Linked DNA regions of Homo sapiens: region 1 is linked to region 2. A link means that fine-mapping ties the variant in region 2 to the plasma level of a protein whose gene starts in the linked region. Region 2 holds a variant in brackets. A gene starts in the other region. All regions are shown on their reverse strands.

Region 1 (16,038 bases), not on the chromosome of region 2:
ACCAGGGCTCTTAACTGGGGACCCCAGGGAACCCATAGAAAGCATGTGGGAAACGTTTATGAGGAGGGTCTGAATCTTCCATTGCATTCCCAAGGTGGTGCATGGCCTCCAAAAGGCTGAGAAGTGAGCTTGTGGCTGTATGCAGGCTCTGGGCCGGCGTCAGCCTGCTGCAGGAGAGAAGTAGAGGGTGCAAATGGAAGTGGAGGATGGTGGTATGTTGTTCCACTCACAGTTTCAACATCCCTCCGAGCCAATATACCAACTCTATGGGGTCCTGGGGTCCTGCCCCCATAGGGTATCATAGGGTGACAAAAGACCTGATCCAAGTCCCATCCACTGTCCATGGTATTTATAGACACACTCTACTCACATAAAATACTGACGTTTGTGAGCGCGCGTGGTGTGTGTGTTGGGGTGGGGGTGGGGGATCAGAGAGACCACGGAGACATGGATAGGGCCTGCAATGATTCTCTGTGTAGTGGTGATGTCACTGGGTTGTGATCTAAAGAGGAGAGAAAAGTCAGCAGAGTTCATACCCTAGGGATGCAGTAAGAACGAGCTATTGATGGATTAAATACTGAATCTAATTTTACTCCGGATCTCTGGGCCACAGGCCTTCTTGGGTGTAAGACAGAGATTGAAAACTCTGTTTTCTAAATTTAACAGGTGTTGGCCAGGCGCAGTGGCTCATGCCTATAATCCCAGCACTTTGGGAGGCCAAGGTGAGCAGACCACCTGAGGTCAGGAGTTTGAGACCAGCCCAGTCAACGTGGTGAAACACTGTCTCCATTAAAAATACAAAAATTAGCTGGTCCTGGTGGCAGGTGCCTGTAATCCTAACTACTCGGGAGGCTGAGGCACGAGAATCACTTGAACCGGGAGGTGGAGGTTGCAGTGAGCTGAGATTGCACCACTTCACTCCAGCCTGGGTGACAGAGTGAGACTCGGTCTCAAAAATAAATAAATAAATAAATAAATAAATAAATAAATGTAACAGGTATTTATAGAGTATTTGCTGCTACCGCTAGTCATGGTACTGGGGAGCTCTGTGTAATATAAAGAAATAAGGAAAATTCTTTATGTGTGCATGTTACGCAAACAAGTCATCACAGCTCAGTGTCACAAGTCCTACACTAGAAAGATGGTAGGGTGCTGTGGGAGCATCCCCAGAGGAAAGGAAGATGATACCCAGGGGAATGAGAAGAAGTTCTATTGGAAGTAACATGTCACTTCAATTAAATAAACACATATCAAGTGCCAGGCACTGTATTGGGGATGGAAGGTGTCTAGACACAGAATATCTGCTACCAAAAAGCCCAAAGCCAGGCCCACAGAAGCACAAGAATGACAACCTGCTGCAACAAAGGCAATGTGTGTAAAGTACAGGGTGGCACAGCTCTGGGAGCAACAAATTGTGTGTGTGTCCTAGGGAAAGTGATGTCTGAGTTAGGATTGGGAGGATAAACATGAATTTACCAGCTTTCTGGTAGAAAGAAGCACGGACACAAATGTGATAGTAATAGTACGTACAGAACATTGACCAGGGGCCACGCACTGTACTAAGTGATATTACTGACATTATCTCACAGAGCCCTACTACTCAACTCTTTGAGGCAAGCACTACTACTCTTAGTACTTGTGCACTCTTAGTACAAATTTCTTCAGACTTTTTTATGTACACAGTCAGGATGTGGGTAGATTGCAAAATAACCAGCAAAATTCTCCTCCTCGTACCCATGTGCTTCAGTAGCTCTTTCCCATACTGAGTCTTGACTTGGTCATGTGGCTTGCTTTAGCCAACGGGACCCATCCCTGCTCTCATTCCCCTCTCCAGTAAGACGGAACTCTCTGCAGGTTAAGAGTCGAGGGTCTGGAACCAGACTGCCTGGATTCAAGCACGCAAACATGATGCAAGGGGTTTGAAAAGCATTTATGCCCTGAGGCTTGTCCCCTTTGCTGTGCTTGTAGCCGTGACACTACTATTTGAACACGCTTGAGCTAGTTTGCTAGGGTGGCCATGTGAAGAACTGAGGAGCCTCAGCAAATTGTCAGCCAACCATCAGACATGTAAATGAGGCTATCCCAGAGCATCTGGCCCCAGCTGATCCACCAGCTATTGGTGGCTGCAGGACTGAGCCTAAGAGAGACCAGCAGGGGAACCACCCAGCTGAACCTAGCCCAAGTGCCGACCCACAGAATGATGAGCTAATGAATGATTGTGGTGTTAAGCCATTAAGTTTTGGTGTGATTTGTCATACAGCAAAAGCGAATTGATAGAGGGTGCATCTTCCAAAGGACAATGTTTTGCAATTAAAATCAGCAGAAATTCTTTTCTTTATCAGGGCTACATAAATTAATAGTGCATCTTACAATTGATGATTTAGATTTGATGCAATACAGTATTATATTCACTCAGCAGATAAGAAAGACAGGGATTTGACAGTTACTTGCCTTGGGTCTGAACTAGTGAGTAGTGGAATTGGTTCCAACCTGTGTGACTCCAGACTTTTTACTCTTGACTACAGATAGCTGGAGAGGAAAATGATATGAACTTGTTGGCGGGGAAAGCAGGGTCAGGTTATGAAGGGTGCCTTAGAAACCCTTGCAGAGGTTGAATTTTACTAGTTGGGAATAAGTGGCCAGTTGAGTGGGAAAAATGAAGTAATTATCATTTCTTTTTGACATTGACTACATAAGATCTTCATATCACTTCCAAGAACAAAAAAATAGAGTGCTGTGGGGACGCAGGGTGGGGTCTAGACGCCCTGGTTTGTCAGCTCTGTGTTGGGGCAGAACTGCAATGCCAGGAGAAGGCCTGAGCAGTGAGTCTGGGAGAGCTGGAGTCCTCCAACCCAGAAAAGAGAGGGGAAACCCTGGGCAGCTGCGGCCTAAGCAGCTGTGGATTGTTCTCCCACATGGAGTGGATGAAGCCAGTGGATCAAGTGCATGTTAAAACTAAAAGGGGTGTGGAGAAAGGGACTATGACTTCATTAGGGCCACTGAAGACCACAGGATAATTATCAGTAGTGTTAGAACAGTGTCGGCCTGGTGGAAATGCTTCTTCTTCACTACCGCTGAAGCCCAGGAGAGTTGAACTAGCAAGTCCAAGCAGTGGCATCATAACGGTGCAAAAAGCATTGCCAACGGGAGTAGATTCATTGCGAGGCTCACATAGCTTGATTTTTAGGGCTTCTCATTTATAGAAGCCCCTTGTGAGACCTCGGGAGGGGCTCTGGCAACCTAGTCACATGGTTAAATGTTTCCACAAAATTTGCAAAAGTAAGACCACGTAGCTGCAATCAGTTGATACAGCACATAGCACAGTTGGTGCACTCTATGCAAAGTCTCTTCTGTCACCACCTCATCCCATTATGGTGCTGAAGTGACCAAGGTCATCTTTGGAACCCAGCTAACAAGAGCTGGAGCTGAACATACATTTCTTTGGGTCTGGGGAGATGTAGTTACGGAATTCACAGGGACTTGCATGTATAGCTCTAGCTTTCTCCGCACAGGAATGCCTTCAGGTATATTTCTCCACCCTCTCTGTCAACTTATCTAGCATCCTGGCAGGAGGTTCAAGGCCAGAGATCATATTTCCCCTCTCCTAAGGCATCTTAGGAGATGGGCAGGGGAAGAGAAACACGGAGTGAAATGGACATAGCCGGTAGGTTTACCACTGAAAATTTTTCCAATCAGCATTCATTTAAAATGAAAAGCAATGAATTTGGTACCCATCCACATAGTTTTGATTTTGAATCAAAACTAACAATGTAAGAAAAGCCCATCAATCATGGTAGAGAAAAGTCCGAATTTTCTTCCTGTAGAAAATTATATTATAAAAATGTCACATGTGGCCTTCCTCCTAAAAACCTATAACCCCAGTCTAATCGTAAGAAAAACATCAGACAACTCCCAATAGAAGTATGTTTTACAAAACACTCACCAGTATGCCTCAAAACTGTCAAGGTCCTAAAAAACAAGGATAGTCTGAGAAACCGTCACAGCCAAGAGGAACCTAAGGAGGCGTGATGAGTAAATGCAATGTCATATCCTGGTTGGGATCCAATGCAATGCCATAACCTGGTTGGGATCCAATGTAATGCCATAACCTGGTTGGGATCCAACGCAATGCCATATCCTGGTTGGGATCCAGTGCAATGCCATATCCTGGTTGGGATCCAGTGCAATGCCATATCCTGGTTGGGATCCAATGTAACGTCATATCCTGGTTGGGATCCAATGCAATGCCATATCCTGGTTGATATCCTGGGACAGAAAAAGGACGCTGGGTAAAAACGGATGAAATCTGAACAATGGATGGGCTTTGGTTATAATAATGTGTCAATATTGGCTCAGTCATCATCACAAATGTTAATCTAAGATGTTAATCAGTGGAAATTGGGTGGGGGGTTTATGGAACTTGGCAATTTTTCTATACATCAAAAACTGTTTTATAAAGTTTATTTAAAATGTCGCATGAAGAAAACATTCATTAGTACACAGCCCAAAACACAGGAAAAAAACTTATTAGAGTGGTAGGAAAAAAGAATTAATAAAATTTTTAGGTGATTTTTTTCTGGATTTTGTGAAATTTATGATTGCAATTATGTGGGCAACATTTTTTCCCTTCCCTACTGCCGGAGGCCCTAGAAAGCCCAAACTTTTAAAATTTGTAGTTTACTGTGATTTCTGTTCTAATTCTAAAGGAAACATTCACTTTTGTATCCAACTTTGTATTTGTAATTTTCTTATAGAGGTTCCCTAAACTGTGTAAGTTTAAGGCTCCAAACGTGGATCTACCCTTGGTTGACATCGAGTAGTTAGAAAAATGTGTCCAACTCAACAATTGAATACCTACTCTGTGTAAATGAAGAGGACGTGCAGGGGAGTAAGAAAGACTGGGATGGTTCATGAGGATTCACGGGACACACTGCCTCCTTCCAGTCCCTTACAGTTTCATGGGGGCATGGATGTATGCCTAATATAGTTGCAGTCCCAAAATGGATTGAACAAAAAGAACTCAGTTACTGATGCCAATCTTCCTTTAACCAGCCAATTACCGAGGTCTGTAATTAAAAGCTCATCGGCCATTATTAATTGATGTGGCTATACTTCAGATAGCCATGCTCAAAAGCAATAGGTGCAGAAGATTAATAATAATCACAGCTTTGTAGTTCCTAATCACAAGTGGGAACTTTTGAGACAAGGCCACTGTAAACCTGCTAATCAGCTTGACCCAGAAAGACTTCGATTCTTTTTTTCTTTTCTTTCTTTCTTTTTTTTTTTTGATGTGGTCTTGCTCTGTTGCCCATGCCAAAGTGCAATGGTGCAATCACGGTTCACTGCAGTCTCGACCTCCTGGGTTCAAGAGATCCTCCCACCTCAGCCTCCCATGTAGCTGGGACTATAGGCTACAGGTGCACACCACCATGCTGGGCTAAGTTTTGTATTTTTTGTAGAGACAGGATCTCGCCATGTTGCTCACACTGGTCTCAAACTCCTGGGCTGAAGTGATCCGCCGACCTTGGCCTCCCAACATGCTGGGATTACAGGCATGTGCCACTGCACCCGGCCCAGTTCTCTTTAGCTTCTCCAGGAGATTGATCAATCGGTGTTAGGCAGATGTCAATGTGGATTTAGCCAGAATTAGCCACAACATTTTAATCAGGCCAAAATGTAACAAGGGCAGGAGTGACCGAAAAAAGACTCAAATTTCCGCTAGGAAATTTGCACCACTACAATATCCAATTGGCTCTTATTCCCTTGGCTAGAGAGATGCTTGAAAAAAAAGACAGTAGAAAGGAGGGTTAAGACTGGTTTCTTAAAGAAGTAAGTACAAGGAAGTATAAGTTCATGCTGCCTGCTTCTAAAAGAATTCTATTCCTCATAACTACATAACATTATAATGCTACTGATTCATAAGGAGTTTAGATTAATTCTATTGGAGAGGACACCAGGATTATTAGTGTTTATTTTCATCTAGGATCTTTATTCTTTAATGCTGTTGGTCCCACAGACACATTTCAGTATACAAAAACACTGCAGTGTTAATAGCCAAAAGAAAAGCCATTATGATGTGAATAGTGGTCATTGTGATCACTGTGACACAATTTTTAAAAACTTTTTCTTAGAGACGGAGGGTCTCACTATGTTGCTCAGGCTGGTCTTGAATTCCCGGACTCAAGCAATCCTCCTGCATTTGCCTCCCAAAGTGCTGGGATTACAGGTGTGAGCCACCGCACCTGGCCCAATTTTTAAAAACAATCATGTCCTTCATTTAAAAAAAAAAAAAAAAAAAAGGCCGGGCGCGGTGGCTCACGCCTGTAATCCCAGCACTTTGGGAGGCCAAGGCGGGTGGATCACGAAGTCAGGAGATCGAGACCATCCTGGCTAACACAATGAAACCCCATCTCTACTAAAAATACAAAAAACTAGCCGGGTGTGGTGGTGGGTGCCTGTGGTCCCAGCTACTTGGGAGGCTGAGGCAGGAAAATGGCATGAACCCAGGAGGTAGAGATTGCAGTGAGCCGAGATCGCACCACTGCACCCCAGCCTGGGCAACAGAGTGAGACTCCGTCTCAAAAAAAGAGACTGGTTTCTTACCTAAGTCACAAACTCCCAACTATAGAGTCTGGAATCTTCATTTAATGAGAACGCCAAGGGCGTGGCTGTCAATCCTATGACACCTGTCTGAGGTAGGTATTATTCCTGATTTAAGGAGGATGCAATGAGGCTTGATGTGGATTCACCCACCCCAAAGCCTGTGTTCTTAACCACTATGCAATACTGCCTCCCATCAAAGTCTCTATCTCAAGTCCACAAGACAACCCCATACATTGTAAAACTTTTTGGAGTGATTAGATAAAAACTTTTTTGTTTTTTTTTAAGTGTGTGTGCTGAAAGAGACCTAAGAGATTATTTAGCCAAGCCCCCTTATAGCCTGAGGAGAAATCTAGGTTCTAAGGAATGAAGTTGCTTCCCAATGTCACCTAGAAGTTCCTGCCAGAAGGAGTGTGAACTCAGGTCTGATACTGGGTTGTGTGCCTTTCCCAGCCTTGAGTTGGAAATCACCTCATTAAGGGCTAGAGCCCAGGGAGAGGCACCCAGTTTAAAAGAAAAGTGTCTTGAGGAGAAGACGTAAGGTGAGACAGCCAGTGACGACCATCCACATGTTACGGGTTGAATTGTCACCCCCACATTCCCCAAGTTCATATGTTCAGGGGTTTGTTGTTGTTGTTGTTGTTGTTTTGAGACAGAGTCTTGCTCTGTCTCCCAGGCTGGAATGCAGTGGCGTGATCTTGGCTCATTGCAACCTCCACCTCCCTGGGTTCAAACAATTCTTCTGCCTCAGCCTCCCGAGTAGCTGGGACTACAGGTACGCACCACCATGCCCCGCTAATTTTTTTATTTTTAGTAGAGACAGGGTTTCACCATGTTGGCCAGGCTGGTCTTGAACTCCTGACCTCAGTTGATCTGCCTGCCTCGGCCTCCCAAAGTGCTGGGATTACAGGCATGAACCACCGTGCCTGGGCATTCAGGTATCTTAGAATGGGACCTTACTTGGACATTACCTCATGATTACAGAGGTCATCAAGTTAAAATGAGGCAATTCGGGTGGGCCCTAGTCCAGTATGACTGGTGTCCTTATAGAAAGAAGGGATTTGCACACACACACCACAGGGAAGATGGTGTGAGGAGACATAGGGAGAAGATGGGCATCTGCAAGTCAGAGTGGCCGGGCACACATGCTCTTTCATGGGCCTCGGAAGCAGCCAGCCCTCCCACGCCGTGATTTTGTACTTCTAGTCTCCAGAACCAGGACAGACCATACATTTCGGTTGTTGAAGCCACTTAGTGTGTGGTACTTCGTTCCAGCAGCCCTTGAAAACAATAGACCACAGAACTTGGGAGGTGCCTGCAGAGGTTCTGGGGCTGAGGGACCGGTTGGAGAAGAGGAAAAAGGAGAGGCAAAGATGACAAAATCACGGATGGGGAGGCGAGATCTGGACAGAAAAACCAGGGATTAGCCAAGCGGGAACCAGTGAAAACGAACGTGGAGTCCATTTTTTCTAGATCTGGAAGATGGAGATCTAAAAGGACTGAGCTGCTAGAGAGGTTGCTGGTGTGTGCGTTGTCCTCACCCCACTGCACCACTGCGCCCAGCACACTGTGGGAGACACCCAGGGAAAGTCCTTCAGTTATTTGTGGGAGTGAACTGCAGTGTGGCTGAGGCCTGGAGCGAACCACGGTCAGTTTCCCCTGCCTGCAGCCCAGGCATAGCCCTGCGTTGGTTGTGCCCACACTCTGGGGGCAGCCTGAGTGCCAAGTGTGGTACTGCTCTCACTAGCATTTAACCTCTGTGCCCCAGCTTCCTCTTCTGTGAAAGGACAGTAATGACAGTACCTACCTCACTGGGTTATGAAGATTAAATAGAATAATGTGTACGCAGTGTTTGTAGCAATGCCTGGCATCAAGCACTGGGTAAACAGTATCTATTATTATCAAAGGCCTTTACGACAACAATCATTCTTCAAACGGCCCTCCAGCGAACGCTGGGCGCAAACTCCACGGTAACGGGGACCAATGTTGTTAGAGGTTGAGGTTCCTGGTAGGTCCCAGGTGCTAAAAGGAAGAGCAGCCTTTGGGATGTGAGCCCGAAAACCATCGTGTTGGCTTCTGAAGCCCCAAGATGGGCATGGCAGGGACGCGGAAGCCCTCAGAACCGCGGAAGCCCTCAGAACCGCACAGCAGGTGGCCGCCGTGGTGCAGCGCGCAGTCGGCCCTCAGCTCCCCTGCACCGGCGCGAGCTGCGGGCGCTGCCCACGTCAGGCTCTGCAGACACCAGACAGAAAAGGTCTTCCGGCCAGGGAGCGTGGGGGAAACCCTGTGGGGCCGCGCCCGTCAGTGTCAAGGAAAAACGGAGAGGAAGGCCCTTGCCTCCAGGGCCCTCGCAGCAGAATTCTGCCCGGCCTGCCAGGAGGCCAGCGGGGCACGGGCTGAGGGTGCAGGATCCGGAGGGCGCCGCCCGCCCCTCGGGCATCGCGGGGCCCAGGGTCCGCGGGGCCTCTGAGCTGAGGCGGTCCAATGTACCCTTTGTCCTTCCTCAGATTCATTATGAAATCCGAGGCAGTCTGGGCGACTCCAGCGGCGTTCGCCCGCCGCAGCCTCTCGACCGCCGGCCACCCGCCAGCCACGCGCGCCCAGACAGGAGGGCGGCCGGGCGCTCGGCGGGGCGGGGCCTGCCGGGGGCGGGGCCTGCGGGCGGGGCGGGGCCGCGGGAGGGCGGGGCCGGCGCGGCGAGCGCACCAGCAGCATCCTGGCTCAGCCGCGGCGGTGGCGGGGGCGCAACCAGCGGGCCGAGGCGGCGGCGCCAGCGGCGCCTTAAATAGCATCCAGAGCCGGCGCGGGGCAGGGAGTGGGCTGCAGTGACAGCCGGCGGCGGAGCGGCCGGTCCACGGAGGAGGTGAGTGCGCCCGCCGTGCGGAGCCGCGCCTGCTCCCGCGGCGGTGCCCGGGCCCCGGCCGAGGCGCCGGCTGACGTTGCCCTTCAGGGCCGAGCCCGGAGCAGCGGCCGCCGCGGAGGCGCGTGAGCCACCCCAGGCTCGTGGGGCCGCGCCGCCTTTCCGGCCTCCTGCCCGCGGCCCCGCTTCCCTCGGCAGCCGGAGGCCTCCGGGGTGCCCGTGCTGCCGCAGCTTCCTGTGTCTGAGTCGCGGGCGGCGCGGGCGCGGGGCTGGTGCGCGGCCGGGGATGCGCGCGGGACCGACCCTTGTGTGTGCGGCGGCGGGGACCGGCCCGGCGAAGCAGCCGGAGGCCGCGCTTCGGCTGGGAGGAGGTGGCCCAGCTGGGCCGCTGACGTTGCCCTCGTCCGCGGCCCCCGCCTGCCCAGAGGCCGGGCTCGCGGGCGTTCGGACCGCGCGTGGGGCGAGACTGCACTCGCGCCCGCTGAGATGCCGGCCCCACGCAGCGCGGCGGCACGAGGCCCACAGGCAGCTCAGAGGCCGCTGCCAGAGGCAGACATTCTCTCGGTGACTCCAGAGGAGTGCCCGTGGCCCTTGCACTTGGCCGTGGAGTCATTGATCTAAGGAGTGCTGGCATTTTTTGAAATTGAGAAGCAAAGATGATGTCTGTCACCTGGCAGCGTAGACGGAGAGTGGCGGTAGATGACTTGAATGGACACGTGGATTCGAGTCTGGGGACAGGCGTTCCCCCAGTCGGTGCGTTGTGAGAGTGTGGAAACCCCTTCCCCACTCAGTCCAATTTCAAGGTTATGGAGCATAATTAAGAGTGACCATTCTAAAAGCGTTCTCTAGTGCCCTGGCTAAGACTTTTAAGCTTCTTGGTGCAGGAGTGTCTAAAGTCCCGCGACTCTCACTGCCCTGTCTTTTATTTTCTTGACCTTTGATTAGCGTTGAGAGAAACTGGTTAAATCTTGCAGTTTCTGCCACCCATTTCACAACTTAACCTGTGATTGTCCCAAAGAAAACAATTATTGGCTTCTTGCTAGCAAAAAAATCAAAGGCTTCCGGTTGATTGTTTCTTTCTTTTTTTTCTTTTTTCAAGTGGACGTGGAAGGTTAGGCTGGCTAAAACTTAAAGTTTGAGTTGTAGGTCTGTGCTGGGTAGGCTTGAGAAGATGGAGCTTTTTAAGGAACCATTGCTCGCCATCAGATTGGAGCCAGACAGTGCAGTGTGATATAGTGGAAAAGGACCAGGTCTTGGGAGACTTACTTTCTTGTTCTGACTCAACTCGGAAAACACCTCCCTAGTCTGAGGCCCCCCTCCTTATATTTGTGAACAAACTGCATTAGACTAAAATCTTTCACGAGTCCAAATTCTGCGACTAGAAAAATAAACTTGTTAGCCGCACACCTTATACCTCTCCCCTTTAAAACAGACATATTAAAGACTTCTGTTTTCTGAATTTACTGTAAACAGAATACTTAAAAAAAAATTACCCAGACAGGCGTGGTGGCTCACTGTAATCCCAGCACTTTGGGAGACCGAGGCGGGCAGATCATTTGAGGTCAGGAGTTCGAGACCAGCCTGACCAACATGGAGAAACCCTATCTCTACTAAAAATACAAATAATTAGCCAGGCGTGGTGGCATGCATCTCTAGTCCCAGCTACTCGAGAGGCTGAGCCAGGAGAATCGCTTGAACTCAGGAGGCAGAAGTTGTGATGAGCTGAGATCCCGCCACTGCACTCCAGACTGGGCAACAGAGCAGGACTCTGTAAAAAACAAAACAAAACAAAAAATTACCCTTCCCCACAATTATAAGCATTTTGGCATATTTCCTTCCTGTCTCTGTTGTTCCTATTTTGGCAGTATTTTTATTGTTATCGCAGGCAGCCTGACTGAAAAGAAATCTGGGCTTCTAAGTTTTTGGTATTTAGGAGGTAGATACAAGTGACCCATGCATGTAGGGTTAGGTATCTATTTATACCATGCAGGTAGAGTTTTCATAGCCACCTCTACTTTTGGGTGAAGTTTAGGCTAACTGAAAGTGTACCAGCATGCATGGTGTATGCAGAAAAATGAACGTAATTCAGATTATGTGATAGTTTTCTCTTGTTGCCATTATATATAACCCAGGGCTTACCACAAACTGAAATTTCTTATGCATTGACATTTAGCATTTGATGTAAAATGACTATCTCAGAGTTGCTGCCACAAACACTGGTAAAACTGTCCCTACTTTCTAGCATGCTTAATGTCTAGGTCTTGCTACATCTTTTTTGATGTAACTGTTTTGTGGAAAATGGTTGTGTGTTTGGGGAGGCTTTTGAGAAAAGATAAGGTTGTCTTGTCATTATAACTGGGTATTTCTCCTCTCTCCCTTCCAGTTTCACTTGTCTGGAAATAGCAAGACTATAGGAGTAGTAATTTCTAGATATTTATAGTCAGTAACCTTAGAGGAATGTTTAGTTTTTAAGATCAATTGAATTTATTGTGTAAGTTTGCCATTTAAAACAGGTGCCCATTTGTGTTTACTGTCTCTTGTAACCAAACTCTGTTCAATTAGAATCCATTAGTAATGTTTTGTGGAGAGTCTTGTTTGGATGATGCAGTGCATGAGGCTCCTGTACTACAAAATAGAAAAGAAGTTCCTCTAAGGCAGCTCAAAGCTGTTGATATCCTGAAGCCTTTTTAGGCCTCCCTCTCTGACAGGCGGTGATCTGACAGGAGGTAGATAAAGGTGCCGGAGTTTTTAGTGAAGGTTGGCAGTCCAACTTGGTAGTCAGACAAACACATGATGGTCAAAAGTGCCTTTGACACTGGGGCCTGGAGAAGAATTCTCAGTGGCCAGAGCTGATCTGAAGCTGCAGGCAGTTGAGTTTGAGTTTCAACATGTTGGTACTTCAAGGGGCTTCTGAAAAGTTTTAAAGGAGCACAAGCCCTGAAGGAGTAGCTGAACTTAGTGAACTGGAGAAGGCAGGGGCAGTTTTACCAGGGTTTGTGGCAGCGACTCTAAGATTGTCATTTTACATCAAATGCTGAATGTCAATGCATAAGAAATTTCAGTTTGTGGCAAGCCTTGGGTTGTATATAATGGCAAGAAGAGAAAACTATCACATAATCTGAGTTATGTTCATTTTCTACATCATGACATTTTCACTTTCTTTTTTTTTTCTTTTTTCCCAGATAAGGTCTCACTCTGTCGCCCAGGTTGGAGTACAGGCATGATCATGGCTCGTTGCAGCCTCTCCACCTCCCTGGGCTCAGTTGATCCTCCCACTTCAGCCTCTCCAGTAGCTTAGACTACAGGCGCACATCACTATGCCCAGCTAATTTTTGTATTTTTTTCGTAGTGAAGCGGTTTTGCCATATTGCCCAGTTGTCTCGAACTCCTGGGCTCAAGCGATTTGCCCTCCTTGGCCTCCCCAAAGTGCTAGGATTACAGGCGTGAGCCACTGCACCCAGCCCACTTTCATGTTCTTGACTGTGTTAGAAACAACACAGTATTGATTCACTTATGACCTTTGAGGAATCAAGAGGGGCGGGTGAAATATTGGAGACTCCTTGAAGTGTGGCTGGCTTGGAGGGTGTCACCCTTGGACAAAAACTTAAGTGGAGGTGAGTAAGGGCCCTGCTCCCCTGTGCTGCCTGCCTTAGAAGGATGTGATCATCTGGAGGCAAATAGCTTGTTGCTTGAGGCCAGGAGTTCAAGACCAGCCTGGGCAACAGAGCAAGACCCCATCTCTAGAAAAAAAAAAGTAAAAACAATAAAATAAAATCTCAAAACTGGTGGTTCCATATAGGTGCCTGGGCTGATTCTCTTTATGAATTATTTGCTGGTCTTCAAGTTTAAATAAAATTCTGAAAGCTGTCTAATATCTAAAAACCACTTGCCACAGAAAAGCTGTATTTGTTTTTCATATTTTAAGAGTCATACATACTTACTGGAGAAAATTTGGGAAATAGGAAAAATGAAGCTCTTCCAGAGATTAAATACTATTAACATTTTGTTATATTTCCTTCCAGTCTTTTTTCCCTATACAATAAACAAATTTTAAGCATACATTGTTAATTAAAGATTACAATTTTGACAATTTAACTTTATCACCTAAGTTATATTGTGGGCTTTTTTACACGTTGTTACATATTCTTCAAAAAATAAGTTCTGAAGATGACTGCATTATTTGCTGTATGGGCCATAATTTAGTTACTTCTCCCCATTTGTTGGATATTTTTCAGAACAGTTTACCAACCTTTGTTATATGTTTAAATACGTCTTTAAAAAATAAAAAATGTTCTGCTTTAAAACTCTTGAAATTAACAATAATTTGAAAAGTGTTTTTACTAATGAATAGGTTTAATGGACTTTTGGGTTCATGTATTCTAGTCAAAAGCAGTTGAAATAGGGATTTCATGGTTTGGAAAGAGAAATGGAAAGAAGTTAGGGCATCAGAGGAGGAAACGGGGCCTGCCTGTAGACCATTTCCTCATTCTGGAGGGGACTTCTGATAAATGTAGGCTCTATCCATTAGCACAGCTTTGGCTGCTATAGAAATGGGCACTTTCCCCTTAGGTTTGTTGTGGGAGAAATGTCCATATAAGAAGGACTGAAACACTCTGAATACTATTTATTCCTTTATTAAGCAGAGTCATGAGAAAGTGCTTCCGGAGCTAGTTTCTCCTTCAGGGTCCAGGTGTCTGCCACAAAGCAGGGCTGTGGTAGCTGACCGAGGTGGTAGCCACAGCCTGGACACGGCCAGGCTTAGGAACAGAGCAGTGATGAGAGCAGCAGACAGAGCCAGGTGCTGCTAAGCTTCTGATGGGTTAACTCATTAGTACCTTCAGCAACCCTGTAAGGTAGGTCCTGCTGCTATCCTTACTGTACACAAGATAAAGGAACAGGTGCAAAGATTAAGTTCCCCATACCAGAATTTGAACCTAGGCAGTCTGGCTTCAGGGTCTGTGCTCCTAATTGCTGGGCTCTACTGCCCCTCCAGAGCTAGAAGTTCTCACTCCAGGAGGGCCTAGAAAGTTCCAGGTTAGGCCAGGTGCGGTGGCTCACGCCTGTAATCCCAGCATTTTGGGAGGCCGAGGCGGGTGGATCACCCTGACCAATATGGTGAAACCCCGTCTCTACTAAAAATACAAAAATTAACTGGGCGTGGTGGTACGTGCCTGTAGTCTCAGCTGCTCGGGAGGTTGAGGCAGGAGAATCGCATGAACCCAGGAGGCGGAGGCTGCAGTGAGCCAAGATTGCGCCACAGCACTCCAGCCTGGGTGACAGAGTGAGACTCTGTCTCCAAAAGAAAAAAAAAGAAAGTTCCAGGTTATACAGCTGGCAGTAAGACAGGAAGGACAGAGCTGGGTCTCCTTCGGTGTCACTGCTCCTTGATTTTACCCCCATCTCATTTACACTCTGCCTTGAATTATCTCTTTATACCACTAGAGTGCTGAAAGAGACCACAAATTTTGATTCAGCGTGGCTCAGGGAGTGATAAGATCACTTGCTATGTAGCTGTGACTTTCTAGAGAATTAAAAAATAAAAGGCTTTGCCTGCCCTGGACATTGGTCTTGTAAGGCTGGAGAACAATTGAGACGCATGACTGGCCGGGTGCAGTGGCTCACGCCTGTAATCCCAGCACTTTGGGAGGCCGAGGTGGGCGGATCATGAGGTCAGGAGATCAAGACCATCCTGGCTAACACGGTGCAACCCTGTCTCTACTAAAAATACAAAAAATTAGCCAGGCATGGTGGTGGGCACCTGTAGTCCCAGCTACTTGGGAGTCTGCAGGGATCGGAGGGGGGTGACTTGGCCAAGGTAACACAACCTGCCTGACCCTCTGGCCATGCACACGTGTGGAGTTTGTTCCCGGGCCCTGTGCCTGTTCAAAGAATGGCTGGACGTCGGTATTGCCCTTGGTTTCTGCCCTGAAGTCCAGTCAGTCAGCAGTTCTGCTTATTCTGACCCTCTCTGTGCAGTATTACCCAACACACATGCATTTCCTCCTTGCCTTCTCAGTATTGCCATCGTGAACCAGAATTGTCACCTCCAATTTAAACAGTGAAGGCCTTTGTTAGGAAGAGGGGCAGGGTGCAGAGGGGGATGGTTGCTTTTTCTAAATCACAGCTCTGATCAAATCCCTCCTAAGCAGAAGCCTTCCAGGCTCCCCTCCATAAGGCTCCAGGTGTTTACTTACCTTGCCTGTCAGGGGCTTCTGCAGCTTGCTTCCTACCTGCTATCTCCACTCCTCTCCAAACCACCATATCCTGAGGCTTCTAGAAAGCAAACTCTGGCGGCATGGGGTTAATGGGTCTGTGTACCCAAGACACTGTACCTGGGTGCTGTCATCTGCCTGACTGACCTTCCTGTGTCCTGGTCCGATGGTGTCTTTGATCCTATAGCTAAGATCAAGACACTGAAAATCTCTAGACTCAAGTCTGTGCTTTTGCTGGGATAAAGTTTGTGTTGAGTACATCTAGGCTGGGTGTGGTAGCTCACGCCTGTAATCTCAGCACTTTGGGAGGCCAAGGCAGGTGGATCATCTGAGGTCAGGAGTTCGAGACCAGCCTGGACAACATGG
Region 2 (16,038 bases):
CGGATATTCCACGTGTGACAAAATTGTTGAAATTGTGAGCTGGCCTAACCTGGACAATTATCAGTCTTAATTTTTGCGGGTTGTTCCATAAATGCAAAAGATAAAAGAAGATGTTTAATGACATATCGAGTAAACTCTCCAGGCGGAGTATGTGCACTACTTAAATGAGTGTTGATATCAAAGGATACATGTACCTATCTAAGTTTTCCAAATTCAGGGATGTGTGTAACATCTGTTTGCCACAACAGATTAGGTTCTAGGGTTAATACCTGTTGAAGGAGGAGACGTGCCTGTGAGCTGGCGATCTCAGAGACTGTTTAGCCAGTCTCTGTATAAGTTGAGCTGGCGATCTCAGAGACTGTTTAGCCAGTCTCTATATAAGTTGGAATTGTTTAGATAAGTTTTTCCAATTTTGGTGGAAAAATTGGTGCAATTGGGTGGCTTGGTCAAGCAGCGATATCATAACTTGAAGGTTGGCTTGATTATTGTCATAAGCTAATGGACCAGGCAGTGAGCTGTGGGCTGGAATGTGTGTAATAAAATAGGATGTGTACTTTGATTTAGCAATTGCTGAAATCAGAGAAAAAGAGTCCACAGGGCTGGCTCCAGAGTTGACTTAATTAGGGCTGTAAAAGTTCTCTAGACCCAATATTAAGGACTCAACTTTAGCTTTCTGAGTGCTAGTAAACCCAGATTGAGTGAATGAATTGTGTGGTGTCCACCAGACTGCTGCTTTTCCATATTTACCAGATCTATCAGTAAACAGTGCTAAAGCATTAAATATGGGGGAGTAAACTATTTTTGTAGGTAACACATTAACTAGGCCTTTTGGGAATGATGAAAATGGGTAAATTCTAAGGGCTGTTAGTAGAATATTACCCATAAAATGAATAATCTTGTAGCCAGGAAACTTTTTCCTACTAGGGAGCAAAGCTTGCTTTTAATTGCTCCCTAACTAACTTAGGGGCTTTTTGTAATGTCTCTCCCTTTAGAGGTTACTGTTTTACTTAAACTGGATTTGGAGTCATGTTAGGAATAAGAGAGAGATAACAGTGGCCATTATTAGAAAGAGGTTTCTCAAATTCTTAAATTTTACTTAACTCTTATCATAGAATTATAATCTGGGATGTCGCTTGTATACAAAGAACATAACAAATTTTGCTTTGGGCCGCCTGCGGAGCCAGAGAGCGGAGCAGGTGGGTCCCAGGGCGGCTGCGGCTTTGTGCTTGCTTAGAAGCCACTTTTCGCCACCGCGTTTCCTCTGTGCCAGCTCCCTCCCCACACTGCTCAGCAGCTGCTGCCGGCAGAGGGGAGCTTCCTGCACTTGCTCCTGCCCCTAATGCCTTTTCTTAACCCTTCGTGTACCTGATTGCCTTGCTGATCTTGCATTACTGGGCAGTCTAAGAGCTCCCCTTTTAATGCTGCTTGTCGAAGACAGGGACATATAGCTGTAGTGTATTTCCTCTATTTTTTCTATCTATTGAAAGAGGGGGCTCAGGCAAAACCTCCGTTTCCTCTTTGTTATTTTGGGAAGAGCAGGTGGTAAGGCAAGTGACGTTTCTTCCTCCTTCCCCTTTTTGGGTTCTTCTTTGTATAATGGGACTAAAGCCATCCCTACTAAAGCCCATAGTGTTAAAGATGATGCTGGGACCCGTTGCGCTTGTGTGTAATGCTGTTCAAGATTTCTCCCTACTTGTTCCCAGAGCTTTACTTCTAGCTTTCCTTCTTCTGGGACCACAGATTATGTGAGACAACAGTTTTCATTAGGTGCCTTAATTGAGCCTGCGAAACTGATGCTCCCCTAGCCTTAAGCAACTGTTACAATACTTTCATATGCTGTTTGTGTTGAGCTGATAACTGCTGTCCCATGATGAAATCTCAGCCTGAACAATCTCCCCTGAACTTGGAGATCCCAAGTGGGCACCAATGACTTACTGTTTTACTGACTTGACCACGCAGTCTTCCTCAACCTTCGTTTTCATGGGGTCTGTCACGCTCCCTTTGCAGCGATCCTCACATGGGGCACCGGCTGTGGGGGTCTGTCCTGCAGGTCCTGACACAACAACGGGTGAATAAAGTACACTGACACACAGATATTCTGCTTTGCCAGCTTGACTGACCATCCAGGTAGATCAAAGGTGAGTCTTAGGACCACATGAGTGAACAAGCTAGTTAGATAAACTCCCCACATTCTTTTGTTTCTACTCAAATTTACTAAACTAAAGGTAAGGGGACTAGGCTGCCTTCAGCCAGATTTATTACTGAAGTTATGCAATCTCTCAAGCCTTCCACGAGGACTTGTGGCTATTATAACTAAAATTTTTCCCACGAGCCTGACTGAACCCCACAGGAAGTATTTTCTCCAAGTCTGTGGTTGCCTTTTACTCCCTTATCAGTAGGTATCGCAGAAAAATGTGTGTGTTTGTGTGTGTGTGTGTTTGTACAAATTTAGATTGAAAACATATATAATTTTATTCATTCATAGATCATGCCTTTGGCATTATATCTGAAGTTTCATTATAAAATAAACTAATAGTCATTATTTTTTCCATATCTCTAATCTCAGGCCACAATCAACTCATGAGTGTTTAAACTTCACCTGCTTGATTGGAGGACCATCAATCTAATGTATTTGGAATACTTCTGTAAGGAGATGTGTTCTTCTTCCTATTATTTTTTAATTAATCATCTATTAATATCAGTATTGGTTGATGGATGTCCATTTTATACTTTGAAAAAGATCCATGCTACATCATTCATTTAATTGTTCAAAGCACCACAGCTTTATTAGGTGCTGGGAGCTCATTTTGTTTGAATCCTGCATCCTTACAGCACACCTCATATTTTTGTTTTTGAACACTTGCGTATTTCCTGGTATTACCATAAATTCTAAGCTTGTTTTCTTTATTACCTTTTTTTACATAGAATCAACCACTTTTATAAAGATTGCATGTTTCTGATGTTAAAGAATAGTATTAAAATAAAACATTGTGATACTGGCTCTGTGTGTTGTTAATGTGGTATGAGTACTTCTAGAACCTCTCAAACAATGGTCCCAGTAAACGTGCATGTTTATGTGAACCCAAGTTTATGGACTCATTGAAACTATTTATGTATCTAATCTTCTGTAACCATATCACATTAAAAATGAGAACACACTGGTCTCTCCACCCAACTATGTTAGCACATGAACCTTTCTAGTCTTCTTTCTTTGCGTTTCCATAACCACCCACTGCAAAGTGAGAAACCCCATTCCACCATATGTAATTTTATTACTTAGCTGCACAGTTTCAGGACACATGCATAGCAGTATCAAAAGTGTAAAGCTGTGCCCTTGATGGAACCATGTTTATCTACTAGAATAGAGTGCTTATGTGCAGATTTTTTACACATTAAACTTATAGAATTTCTTCGTTTTCTGAGTTGCTTAGGTCAGCAACTTCATTTTCCACATTCTTCAATGAAGTCATTTCAATTACATTGTATAATTTCATTTATTTGAAATTCCATAAATGCTTAGACTATAGTCAAGTAAACAGACAGAGGATGTTCCAGGAATTTAGAGAGTGGGTATAAAATAAGCAAAAAAAAAAATGTGGTGTTTAGGAAAAATAAAACTATTTTTAGTGATATGCAATGGTTGAGATATGATATAACTAATTTGTCTAAGCTAATAATTTTGTGATAGAAAATATAAACTTAAACATATTCAATTAAAAAAATTCAGCAGTTCATTAACCCCAGGATTAAATGCAGACTGTATAAAATTATCCAATAACTTATTTGGTGAGAGTGGGGATGTTATGAGATACATGCAACAAAGAATGAAGTAATTTTCCCCATTTGCATATACAATGTTTCCATTCACTGAAGACCTTTTATTTTAAAAAAATCAATTTTCTACCTTACCCTTGTTTTTAATTCCCGACAAGCAAATAACCCAAAGGATTCTTTTCTTTCATTGGTTGAGAAAGATTTTCCCCTAACTTCAGCTTAGTTCAGGCATACGCTGACCTGAATGGGCATTTACCCTCAGATGGGTACACACCTGTCAATATGTGGACTCTTCTGTCAGACAGACACAGCTTCACTCATGTGGATTCTTCCCTCAAACACAAATGTCCCCACATGGACTATTTCCTCAGACTACCACATATGTCCTTACATTTACACTTTCCTCAGAAAACAGACATTTCCTCATGTGGACTCTTGTCTCAGATAAGCAAACATGTCTCAGTGTGAATGAAGTCTTCACTCAGATAAGTACACATATTTCAACACTGACTGTTTCCTGACACAAGCACATATGTCCAATGTTAAACTGTCTTGCGACAAAATGATCTCAAGATAATGATAATTATAAACTCCAACCCTGAAAATCTGTAGATCTGCATTTTGTCTATTGTAACATAACTTCATCTCATTGTCAGAAACAGTCGTTTGCAGCTATAAATGCACTGATTACAGTCAGATTTCCATTTTCTCTGGAAATGTATTTCTTATGTTCTTACTGGACTAATTTGTTGATAATGTTTGCTCACATGAAGATACCTGAACAGTGTCCACATTAGAGAATAAAAAAGAGCAATGGGCAGATTAACCCTGTGCATCCAGACGCAGGAACCATTTGACTCTGCCTTCCCTGAAATGGAGACACAGAGGATGGATGAGCAACGCTGAGTGGTGCACCTACGACCACAAAGAGAAAGACCTGGAAATATGTCCCATCCCCTCCTCATGAAAGGCAGCTCATCCCCTGTTCCTTCAGGCCCTGGTGAGGAGCCACCCCATATCTGTGTCTTTCTTCAGTGTTCACACTATGGAGTCTGCACTGATCTGGGTTTCCCTTCTCATCACCCTCCATATTAGTGTCCCTTGTAAATCAGGTCCAGCTGTGGCTGCTCATAGGGTTGTTCTCAGTCTATTTCCTCTGTGTTCATAGAAGTCCTGTATGAAGTTCAGTGGTGGAGTCAGAGGGGTAAACGTAGTACAGCCCAGTGGTTCACTGAGACTTTCTTGCAAAGCGTCTGGATTCACCTTTTCTGGCAACAGCCTGAGGTTGGTCCAGCAGGCTTCACAACAGGGATTGTGGTGGCTGGCAACAGTGAGTCAACAAGTGGGAGTGCTCAGGTTTACTCTTCATGAGTACAAATAAATTAACTGGTCCAGCGACACCCTTTCACGTGCACTCTACCTTACAATGACTAACCTGAAAGCCAAGGACAAGGTTGTGTAATACTGTGAGCTTCACAGGAGAGAGATTATCTGCACAAGCCCAGACACAAAAATCTGCAGGGAGACAGGAGGGAACTGCATGGTAGATGCTGCTCAGAAGCACCAGGGGGCACTCAACACAAGGGGGCGCTCAGGACACCAGGCGGCACTCAGGATACAGCTGGGGGCGCTCAGGACACCAGGGGGCCACTCAGGATACAGCGGGGGGTGCTCGGATCCACCAGGGGGCTCTTAGGGCACCAGGGGGCATTCAGGACCACTAGGGAGCCCTCAGGGCCACCAGGAGGACCTCAGGACACGTCAGCGTGCTGGAGCCACCGGGGGGGGGGGGGGGGGGGGGCGCTGAGGAAACCAAGAGACGCTCTGAACCGCGAGGGGAAGGAAGCTCAGGACCACGAGGGGACGCTCAGGACACCAGGGGGCGCTCAGAACACCAGTGGGCACTCAGAACAGGAAGAATCTCTTAGAAAGCAGCTCCACATCAGGATCCTGGGAGGCTGTGGAGAAATGGGAACACTCATAAACTGTTGAGCATTTAAATTAGTACAACCACTATAGAGAACAGCTTAGAGTTTCCTCAAAACCTGACGATAGAGTTATCATATAATCTGGCAATCCTGCTGCTGGTATATACCCCTAAAAAGGAAATGTTTTTGCACTACCATGTCTGTAATAGCACTGTTAAAGCACTGTTCACAACAGTCAAAATTTGAAAGCAACCTATGTGCCGATTAACACATGAATGGATAAATAAAATATGGTACATATAGGATATGGGTTAATATCATGCCATAAAAAAATGAGATTTTGTCATTTGCAGCAACATGGATGAAACTGGAGTTCACTATATTAATTGAAATGAGCCCAGAACAGAAAGACAAAATTCACATGTTCCCATTTATTTGTGAAAGCTAAAAATTAAGACAATTGAACTCGTGGAGATAGAGAGGGAAAAGATGGTCACCAGAAGCTGGGAAGGTCTATGGTAGATGGGGATTATTGGGGATGGTCAATGGGTAGAAAAAGTGATTAGAAATAATAAATAACACATAATATTTTATAACACAACAGAATAAATATAGTCCTCAATAACTTAATTATAGATTTTAAAATAAAAGTTTATGAATGGAATGTTGGTAACTCTATTAATGCTTGAGAGGATGTATAAAATATTCTTCATGATGTGATTATTATGCAGTTCATGCTGATTCAGAGTCCTGTACCCCATAAATATATACGTGTACTATTTACCCACAAAGATTCAAAATTAAAGTGTTTATGTGTCTAATATTCTGTAACTATATTACATTAAACCTAAGAACACACTGGCTTTTACACACTACTGTCATCCACATAGACATTCATAGCCTTCTTTCTCTGCTTGTCCATAATCCCACACTCCAAAATGAGAAAACCTCTCCTAAGATATGACATTAATTTACTTAGTGCACAATTTCAAAATACACAAATCGTCTTTAGGATTGTTAAACTGACCCTTGTTGAAAATATGTTTATCAACTAGAATACAGTGCTTATGTGGAGCTTATTTATGTTTTACAATCGCAACATCAAATTCTTTCCAAGTCTCTTGTGTCCAATATTTATGCCCCACCTTCTTCAGTGTAATTAGTTCAAACCTTCTGATTGTTGTTAGATATTTTTATACAGCTGTCTTTTTTTGTGTTTCATGACCTGCTAAATACTTTCGAAGTTGTATGCATTTAGGTTAACACTTTGTCTCAAAAAATATGAGTTTTCAGAAATTCTTTATGCCATGTGTCCATCATTGAATATCATAAAAATAGTTTCATTGGCCGGGCGTGTTGGCTCACGCCTGTAATCCCAGCACTTTGGGAGGCCGAGGTGGGCGGATCACGAGGTCAGGAGATCGAGACCATCCTGGCTAACACAATGAAACCCCATCTCTACTAAAAATACAAAAATTAGCCGGGAGTGGTGGTGGGCACCTGTAGTCCCAACTACTCGGGAGGCTGAGGCAGGAGAATGGCGCGAACCCGGGAGGCAGAGCTTGCTATGAGCAGAGATCGCGCCACTGCACTCCAGCCTGGGTGACAGAGCAAGACTCCCTCTCAAAAAAAAAAAATAGTTTCATTGGGATTAAAAAGTGTGTGTTTCACCTAATCCACACACCTTCTCCCCACCTTCCTGGGAAACCTCAAATGTTTACTGGATCTATATTTTTATCTTTGGCAAAACAGCCTGGCTGTTCTCTTAGCCTCTTTTGCAAAGCATCAAGATTCACCTTCACTGACTACAGCATAAATTGAGCCCAGATGGCTGGGGGACAGAGGCTGGAGTGGGTGGTAACAGTGATTGATTCAAGTGGAAGTTCTCAGTGATATTCTGCATCAGCATAATGAAGATTCACAATTCCCAGGGACACCAATTACCAGCACAGTCTCCCTTAAAATAATCTACTTGGAAGCTGAGGGGGCTCTCACAGGGGTAGGCAGTGTATTACTGTGAGAGACACAGCGAGGGACATTTCTGTGAGTCCAGAC[A/G]GAAACCTCCCTGCAGGGAGACAAGAGAGGACTTTGTGATAAATGGTGCTTAGGACACCAGGGGGCACTCAGGACAGCAGAGGGTGCTCAGCAGAGCAGGGTGCGCTCAGGACATGGTGTGTGTTGTAGGGGGCATTGCTCAGGATCACCAGGGGGCTCTCAGAACCACCAAGGGTCACTCAGGAAACCAGGGGGCGCTCTGGACACCAGGGGGAGCTCAGAACCACCAGGTGGTACTCAGGACACCAGGGGGCGCTCATGACCAGCAGGGCATGCTTGGGACTCTATGAGGCATGCAGGAGAAGCAGGCCGTGCTCAGGGCAACAGGGGGCTCACAGAACCACCTGGGGGTGCTCAGAACCACTAGGGGTCACTCAGGACAGCAGCAGGCATTCGGGACACCATGGGGCCCTCAGGACCTGCAGGGGGCGCTCAGAACACCAGGGGAAGGTCAGAAAGACCTGGGGGCACTTGGAACCACCAGGGGGCACTCAGGACAGCAGGGGGCGCTCAGGACCACTAGGGGGCGCTCAGGACCAGCAGGGGGTGCTCAGGACACCATGGGGCATGCAGGAGCAGCAGGCTGTTCTCAGGGTAACAGGGGGCTCTCAGAACAACCTGGGGGTGCTCAGAACCACCAGGGGGCACCCAGGACATCATGCGGCCCTCAGAACCTGCAGGGGGCGCTCAGGACACCAGGGGAAGCTCAGAATGACCTGGGGGCACTCAGAACCACCAGGTGGCACTCAGGACAGCAGGGGGCGCTCAGTACCACGGGGTGCACTCAGGACAGCAGGGGGCGCTCAAGACACAGTGGGATGCTCAGGACCAGCAAGAGGCACTCAGGACCACCAGGGGGCACTCGGGGGAGCAGGAGGCACTCAGGACACCAGAAGAGGATCAGAACCACTCGGGGGCACTCAGAACCACCAGGGGGCGCTCAGGACACTGGGGGCATTCAGAACCACCAGCAGGTTCTCAGGACACCCAGGGACACTCAGGACAGCAGGGGCGCTCAGGACACCAGGGAGGGTGCTCAGGACACCAGGGGGCTCTCAGAAACACCTGGGGGTGACCAGGACTAGCAGGGGCATGCAGGACACCAGGGAAGGGGCTCAGGACACCAGGGGGTGCTCAGGACAGCAGGGGGCACAGAATCACGAGGGTGCATTCCAGACCACCAAGAAATACTCAGGACCAGGGGTAACAGAAACACCTAAAGACACACAAGACCACCAGGAGGCACTCACGACTGCTCAGAGTGCTGAGGACACCAGAGCTTCAGGACGAACAGGGGGTGCTCAGGCCACCATGGGGGGCTCAGGAACCACCAGGGTATCACTCAGACAACAGGGTTCTCTTAGGAGGCAGCTCCACATCAGGTGCCTGGGGAGGGTCAGATTTGCTTTTAGACCTTGCTGATCCCTGATCTGGTCAAGCGAAAACCTTCCCAGGATCTCTCACCATTTCTTCCTTGTAACCCATGGTTTCTTTCACGTACAAATCATTAACTTAGAACAGGAATTCAATTCAACTTTTAACCCTCCATATTTTTAGAATAACACTAGCAGTAATTGAATGTTTTGATAATAAGAAATTGCGTATGCCTAATTCAAGCTCTGGTTCCATGCATGGGTTTTTGTTTTCTTTGCTGTGTCAGTCACACTATAGTCAATGCTTTTCTACCAATAACTCAGCATAGGCATAGTGTTAAGTTTCTTTTTCTTTCATCTGCCTTTTGTGGAGATGAAACACCACTTTCAGGGCTCAGTTCCCCCACCTTGGTTGGGTTCTGGTGTTCTGCTCCTCACACTATTTCTCCACCTTCCCTTCTTCTGTCCAAGCCTTTTGTCTTCCTCAGTCTCCTAGCAAGGAAGCAACAAGTCCCTTTATTTTGCCTCTTCCATGTCTGGTGAATCTGTTCACTTCTCTTCATGATCATTGAAGTCAACCAAGTTTAGGAGGATAACAGTTCTCCTTAGAATATGCTCATCTACCTGCAGACTCTCTGCCTTCCTCACCCCTTTCTAGGGTCCTGCAGACGTCACCTCCACCACATCCACTCCTTTACCTAAGTACCACAGAATAGTCTCTGCAGCTCCTGCTGCTCTCTGTGTGCTCAGCACTAAGGCTCACTAGTGCTTTGATGATGAAGTTCAAATCCCTAATGTGTTAGCAATTCTCAGACAACCCTGCCATTGTGAGTGAATTTTGGGGATCCTGGGCTGTTTTCAGTTCCATATTACTGGATGTTCTCTAGCATCCAGGAGTACTGGCAAATTAACATCTAGAATTTGTATTGCAAATTTATACAAAATCAATTGTAGAAAAAAATCCTAATTTCTAAATAAGAACATTTATCCTGACTTTTATAAAAATACAATGTGAATTTAACCAATAATATAATACAATTTTAAAAGTGATGTTTATCTTATATGTTATTAAGTTTATTAATAATTGGCTGGTATTTTAAAAGTATACTGATAGCAAAACTGACAAATAAACCAACACAGATTCTATACATAAATACCATTGTCCATTTAATTAATGTGTTTGGCCAGAATGGCATTTACATTCAGTTCTACCGAGGCATGTCTTTAAATGTATTTGTTTATTGGCATTAGGATAGAGAAACACTCACACAGAAAAGCATTATTTGGGACTACTACATTATACTATAAAAGAGAGTAAATTCAATTCAATTAAATAAATAAAATAAATTGAATAAATTCATGTTTTGGTTTGGTATTTGGATAGGTGTTCATTTTTCTATTTTCACATGTATATTTCAGTACTGGGCATATGTGTGTATGTGTATGCATGATTATGAACTTCTAAAATACATTACTCCCCTATATAGTTATATAAATTGAAGTTTTGCATGTTAAGAGACAGTAGAAACCACAAAAGGGGAAAAGTTATAGAAAGCATTTGGAATACCTAGGGCCTACAGAGGAGTCATATTAAAATGAAAAATAATAGCTGAATATTTTGGAAATGACACATGCAGTAAGAAATGTCTATATGAAATTAACAGGATATTGGCACAAAATTTAGAAAAAAATAACATGATTATGCCCACTATTGGTCTATGATATGCCTATAATAATAACACATTTTATTTATCATAGAAAATAAAATAATTATACAAATAGCACTCTCATTGCTTGATTTTAGTATTAGGTACTTCACTTGTTTTTTGATAGAAATGAACATTTATCATTTTTTGATGATAATTTCTATATTATCTTCTAAAATTAATGTCCATAATTATGATTGACATGTTATAATTTCCAGAAACCTATTTTATCAATTGTGACTTGTATTTTTATGATAGTATTTTTACATTCATATACATTTGATTCAGAATAATTGTAGATTAACAAAATAATCATAAAGTTAATACAGTGTGTTCCCATCTCTAAGTATCTCCTAAGATGAACATCCTCCACAATCATAAAACATGGTGTTAACACATTTACGTTGATAACTTTAAATATATTCAATACCAGGCCTTATTTGAGATTTACCATTTTTCCAATAATTTCTTTTGTAAACCAAAAATAAAATTCTAAGCTTCCTCATCCAACTAAATGAACTCAACTATCAGCCAAAGATATTTTAAAGTAAACTTTAAAACTTGTTCCAGCAATAATGGGAAAATGAGAGGTCAGATATGCCTCATTATGTCCTCCTGTCTTTGGAATTAAGGCACCTGTGGCCAGCATTAACACTAAAACAAAGACCCTTAGACTGACAAAACTATATTTTTTCTATAAACACTCTTCATAGTGAAAAGATACCAAATTACAATATGATTCTAGTATAGCATCACATGACAAACAGCAACGCCTAAAAATCTATTCTCTATGAAGTCTGCTACCTGGAGGTTTCATCTACATAATAACAATTATGAGCTCCACAATCTCGTATCTTAATCCAGATACTCATTTGTAATGAGTGTGTAACATTTCAACCAATTGCCAATCAGAAAATGTTTGAATTCACGTATGTCCTGGAAGCACTTGAGTAAGCTTATTCTGCCTTTCTGGACTGTGTAAATGGTATAGCTCACATGTGTTGATTCATATCTGTCTATACCTTCTGTACCACTAAAATGTATAAAATCAAGCTGTAACCAAACCATTTTGGATACGTGTACTCAGGAACTCCTGGAGTTGTGTCATGGGCCTTGGCCACTCATATATATCTCAGAATAAACTGTCTTAAATAATTCACGGTTTGTCTCTTTTAGTGGATACTGTCTTTTTCTTTTTTCTTTCTTTTTTTTTTTTTGTTTTTTGAGACAGGATCTCTCCTTGCTGTTGTTTTTGTATATTTGTTTGTTCCCAGATTCCAACAAGGTCATCACTTTGAATTGAGTTGTCATGTTCCTTTATTCTCTTCTGGCAAATCACAGTTTGTGTTTCTGAAGTTTTCTAGTTTAATATTTTATAGATAAAAATTTATCAAGTAGATTGATAGTCCTATTTAGGACACTTATATCTTTACTTATTTGAACACTGCTTGTCAATCACAATGAGTGTTGATTTCTCCGTCTTCTATACATGTTATTATATTTTCTGTTCCAAATCCATTCATTAAGTATTTTTAAATGTATTTTGGAAAGTTGATCCTATTACTTTATGTAATATTTCTCTTGAGTCCCAAAGGTCTTCTTTTTATGATTATTTTGTCTTAAATTAACATAGCTATTTAAGTTTTCTTTTGGTTTATATTTTCATGATATATATTTTTCCATCTTTATTTTTTCTATTTCTGAATATGTAAAGAAATTTTCTTGGAGATAAATAATAGTTGGGTGTTTTTTTTTAGTCAACTATGAAGAATTATTTTTTAATGATGTTACTCTTTTGTCCAATTATTCTTGTTTTAATTTGTATTTTTACAATAAAGTTTATTGTTTCTATTAACTTATTATTTAATCATTCTGTGACTAACATTTTATGGGTTACCATAAGGATAACAATAAAAAGTTTCTATAATTGAATTCTAATTCAAAAATTTAATTCCCATTCATATATACTACAGAGATATTATAACTCTATATATCTAATTCCTCTTTCCTATCCCATGTTTTTTATTTTCTGTTTGTATCTATACATGCTATAAAATGTAATATTGGCATTTTTATAATTGCTTTCCACACTTACATAATGAACAAAATACAAATGCAAAAACTGTATTTCAACCTCATTTTTCCATTGTTGACCATCTTCTTTGTGCATATTTTCAGGTGTTGGATCTATGTCACATGGCTATTCATCTAGAGACTCTGCTAAAATGTCTACGGAAAGATTCATGTGCTGGAAATAGGTTTTCTCAGGTTTTATTGGTCCGACAGAATATTTATTTGTCTTTGATTTATTGTCTCCAGAGACAATGTCAAGAATATGCTATATCTGCAAATGGGCGATCTGTAAACCAAGAACACATCAGTATATCACTGTGCAAGAGGAGCACATGAGGGAAAGCCAGTGTGTGCCCAGACATAAACCTCCAGGGACACATGGGCGAATTAGCTGCAGGGGGAGCTTGGGACCCACTGATGAGAGTCGACCCCAGAGGGAGGTGCACAGAAAGGTTAAGAACTGCTTTCCTGCCAGTATATTTTTAAAAAAACAAAACTTCCATCTGACAGTTTCTCCAGAGAACTTCCCTAATTTTAGCATTCTGTGCCTACCAATGCCATCACTAAATAGGTTTTTAAAAAATATTGTAATATGAGGACATATTCTCATATGGACAAAACGCAAATTGACATTTACAGAAATGAAAAGTCCTCAACCGTGGTCGCTAGAATTGGAGACCTGTAGCAGCTCAGTGGGACCTGTTGAGTCTTCTCCAATCACACTCAGAACAGAGACCTTAGTGCATCTCCCTGACTAGAATACCCTTTAGGTATCGAGATAACAGCCTAAAGATGGTAAATCATGAGAGTCTCAGATGTCCAGATGACAGACATGGGTCTATGGGAATAGTACTGTAACTGACAGTAACTAATTTTCCATACCGCCAGATGTCCTATTCAGGAGCAGCTACAGCAGTCATGCCTAGGTGTGAAGATCACACACTGACCTCACCCATGCTGTCTCTGGCCACTTCATCACAACCAATGCTTAATATTGGACGTGGATCTGCCAGTCCCCGGGGAATGGGTTGAATGGATAAAATGCATGGCTAGTGCTGCTGGAAACCCATTCCTACTGTGGCAAATGGCAGCATCTCTTTTAAAAGGCTAAATAATATTCTATTCTGTATACATACCACATTGCCATTATCCTTTTTGTTTGTTTGTTTGTTTGTTTGTTTGAGATGGAGATTCACTCACTCTGTCACCCAGGCTGGAGTGCAGTGGCGTGATTTCAGGTCACTGTAATCCCTGCCTTCTGGGCTCAAACAATTCTCCTGCTTCAGCCTCCGGAGTATCTGGGATTACAGGCATGCACCACCACTCCCGGTTAATTTTTGTATTTTTTGTAGAGATGGTGTTTCAACATGTTTGTCAGGCTGGTCTCAAACTGTGACCTCAAAAAATCAACCCACCTCAGTCTTTGAAAGTGCTCAGATTGCAGGCGTGAGCCATAGCATCCAGCCACTTTTCTGCATTTTTTTTTCATTGACACTTAGATTATTTCAATATCTTGGCTCTTGTGAATAGCGCTGCAGTAAACATAGGAGTGCAGATATCTCCACAAGGTGGTGATTTTTTCTATCTTGGGTATATTCCCAGAAGGGAGGTTGCTGGTCATACAGTAGTTCTAGTTCTAATTGATTTAAGATCATCTTACTGCTTTCCATAGTGGTGGAGATTCAGATTAGTGTAGCTATTATGAAAAACAGTTTCAATGTTGGGGAGTGACTGAAAAACAAATAATGCTTGATTATGGTTCTCCATGAGAGTCTCTAATAAACCTAATGGAAGTTCAGAAAGTTTCCTCACCTTGTTAAGAAAACATTTGTTTTGCTCATAATTCTCTTTCAGCCCAGAGTTGGCAGTATGTAGAATGGAGGCTGTTGGCTCGTTTAAGGATTCTGAAGCAAAGAACAGTAATGAGAGATGACAATAGAGAAAAAGAGAGAGAAGGAGATGCTGAATCATCATGGACTCATTCCACCTGCAAGCCTTTCACTGTAAAGCTCTATTGCTAAGGATCCTGAGGATTCTATACTCCCATGAATGCATAATCAGGATCCCTCAATTCAAATTTTATTGGCAGAGACACACTGGGACCCCTCTAGGATATGTGCCCTACATTACTGGCTCAACATGCCGCACTGAGAATCCTGCATTAACTGGCTTTATTTGTAGTGGTGAGTAAAGTTCACAGTTTTCAGTCATCCATGAAGGGGAGATTTTTTTTTTGGTTCATATAATTTTTGCAGAAATTCAGGTATTAGTGAAAACCAATAAGATTGAGGATTTCTGGATATTTTAGCAACACTAGGGATGATGGCCATTTTGTAGAAAAATTTACATTTTTCAAACTGACCTACATGTTAGGCTGACATAAAAAAATCCAACTACACAGCAATATTATGGCAACACTTCAATACACTTGGTGGTGAAATACCTCAGAAATGAAATGTTACACAGATTAATTGAGTTAATGAAACTGTTCTGAACTATGATAAACATTTGTTTGCACCCAGATTTGCTTGAATTCAATTTGATTATTATATTCAGCTGCTGCCCTAACTTATTTGAATGAGTAAGTTACTATTTAAATGACCCTGTCTGTTTGATTTGTTATATATACATCTGAATTAAAGAACTTAAAGGACAGGTTTGTGCTATTATTAGAAAGAGATATTCTGGGGGGCCCTTGTTTGCTCCAGGAACCTCCACATTTTTAACTTAGAATTAATATAAATTCCTTGTGAATTGGGTCAGTCTTCAAGAGACCTAATCTCTAAAACATATACCCAGAACCTTCTCCAGACAGACCATCCAGAGGAAGAATCTTTCCAGTAATTTATCTCCATGGTGGAAGGTCCTTCATTGTCATGCAGAACCCTCTGCCCAGGCTTCCTTTATTATGCAAATAATTAATATTAGCCAGTAGGGTAAGATTAAACAAAAATAGACCGGAGATGCTGCAGACAGGGAAGGAAGTAATAGACCAAAATCAGCTTTATTAATGGAGACTGCTTTTAAAGGTCACAGCCAAGAAATGGAAGAGGATAAAATCAATGAGATGAAATTGTAAGAAACTTTGTCCAGTTCAATCAAGCCATCAGCAACCAGATAGCTTCAGTG

Which allele goes with the higher level. Alleles are on the strand shown, and positions count from the first base shown. The strength of an association depends on the size of the effect and on how common the allele is.
For the plasma level of the protein whose gene starts at base 9,411 in region 1, allele A in region 2 goes with a lower level than allele G (strong association).

What was found. PIP is the posterior inclusion probability: the model's chance that the variant is causal. Protein levels are from antibody-based Olink assays in UK Biobank. Linkage for the fine-mapping came from a reference panel and not from the study's own genotypes, which makes the PIPs less certain.
Region 1: ACSL1 starts here. The variant in region 2 is fine-mapped to the plasma level of the ACSL1 protein (UK Biobank, PIP above 0.99).

The regions. Positions count from the first base shown.
Region 1 is chr4:184,819,341-184,835,378 of GRCh38, reverse strand. ACSL1 (acyl-CoA synthetase long chain family member 1) reads left to right here and starts at 9,411. Exons shown (of 21, transcript NM_001995.5): 1 at 9,411-9,463. It overlaps LOC105377587 (a long non-coding RNA gene), which reads right to left and starts at 9,208. Exons shown (of 3, transcript XR_939564.4): 1 at 8,408-9,208; 2 at 3,944-4,266. RefSeq lists enhancers at 8,233-8,512, 8,683-8,732, 8,339-8,842, 10,093-10,162 and a silencer at 8,963-9,922.
Region 2 is chr14:106,684,302-106,700,339 of GRCh38, reverse strand. It overlaps IGH, the pseudogene SLC20A1P1, the pseudogene IGHVII-67-1, the pseudogene IGHVIII-67-2, the pseudogene IGHVIII-67-3 and the pseudogene IGHVIII-67-4. Among named protein-coding and RNA genes, the nearest start is that of MIR5195, 160 kb to the left of the region's middle. The variant A/G (reference allele first, on the strand shown) is at 7,758.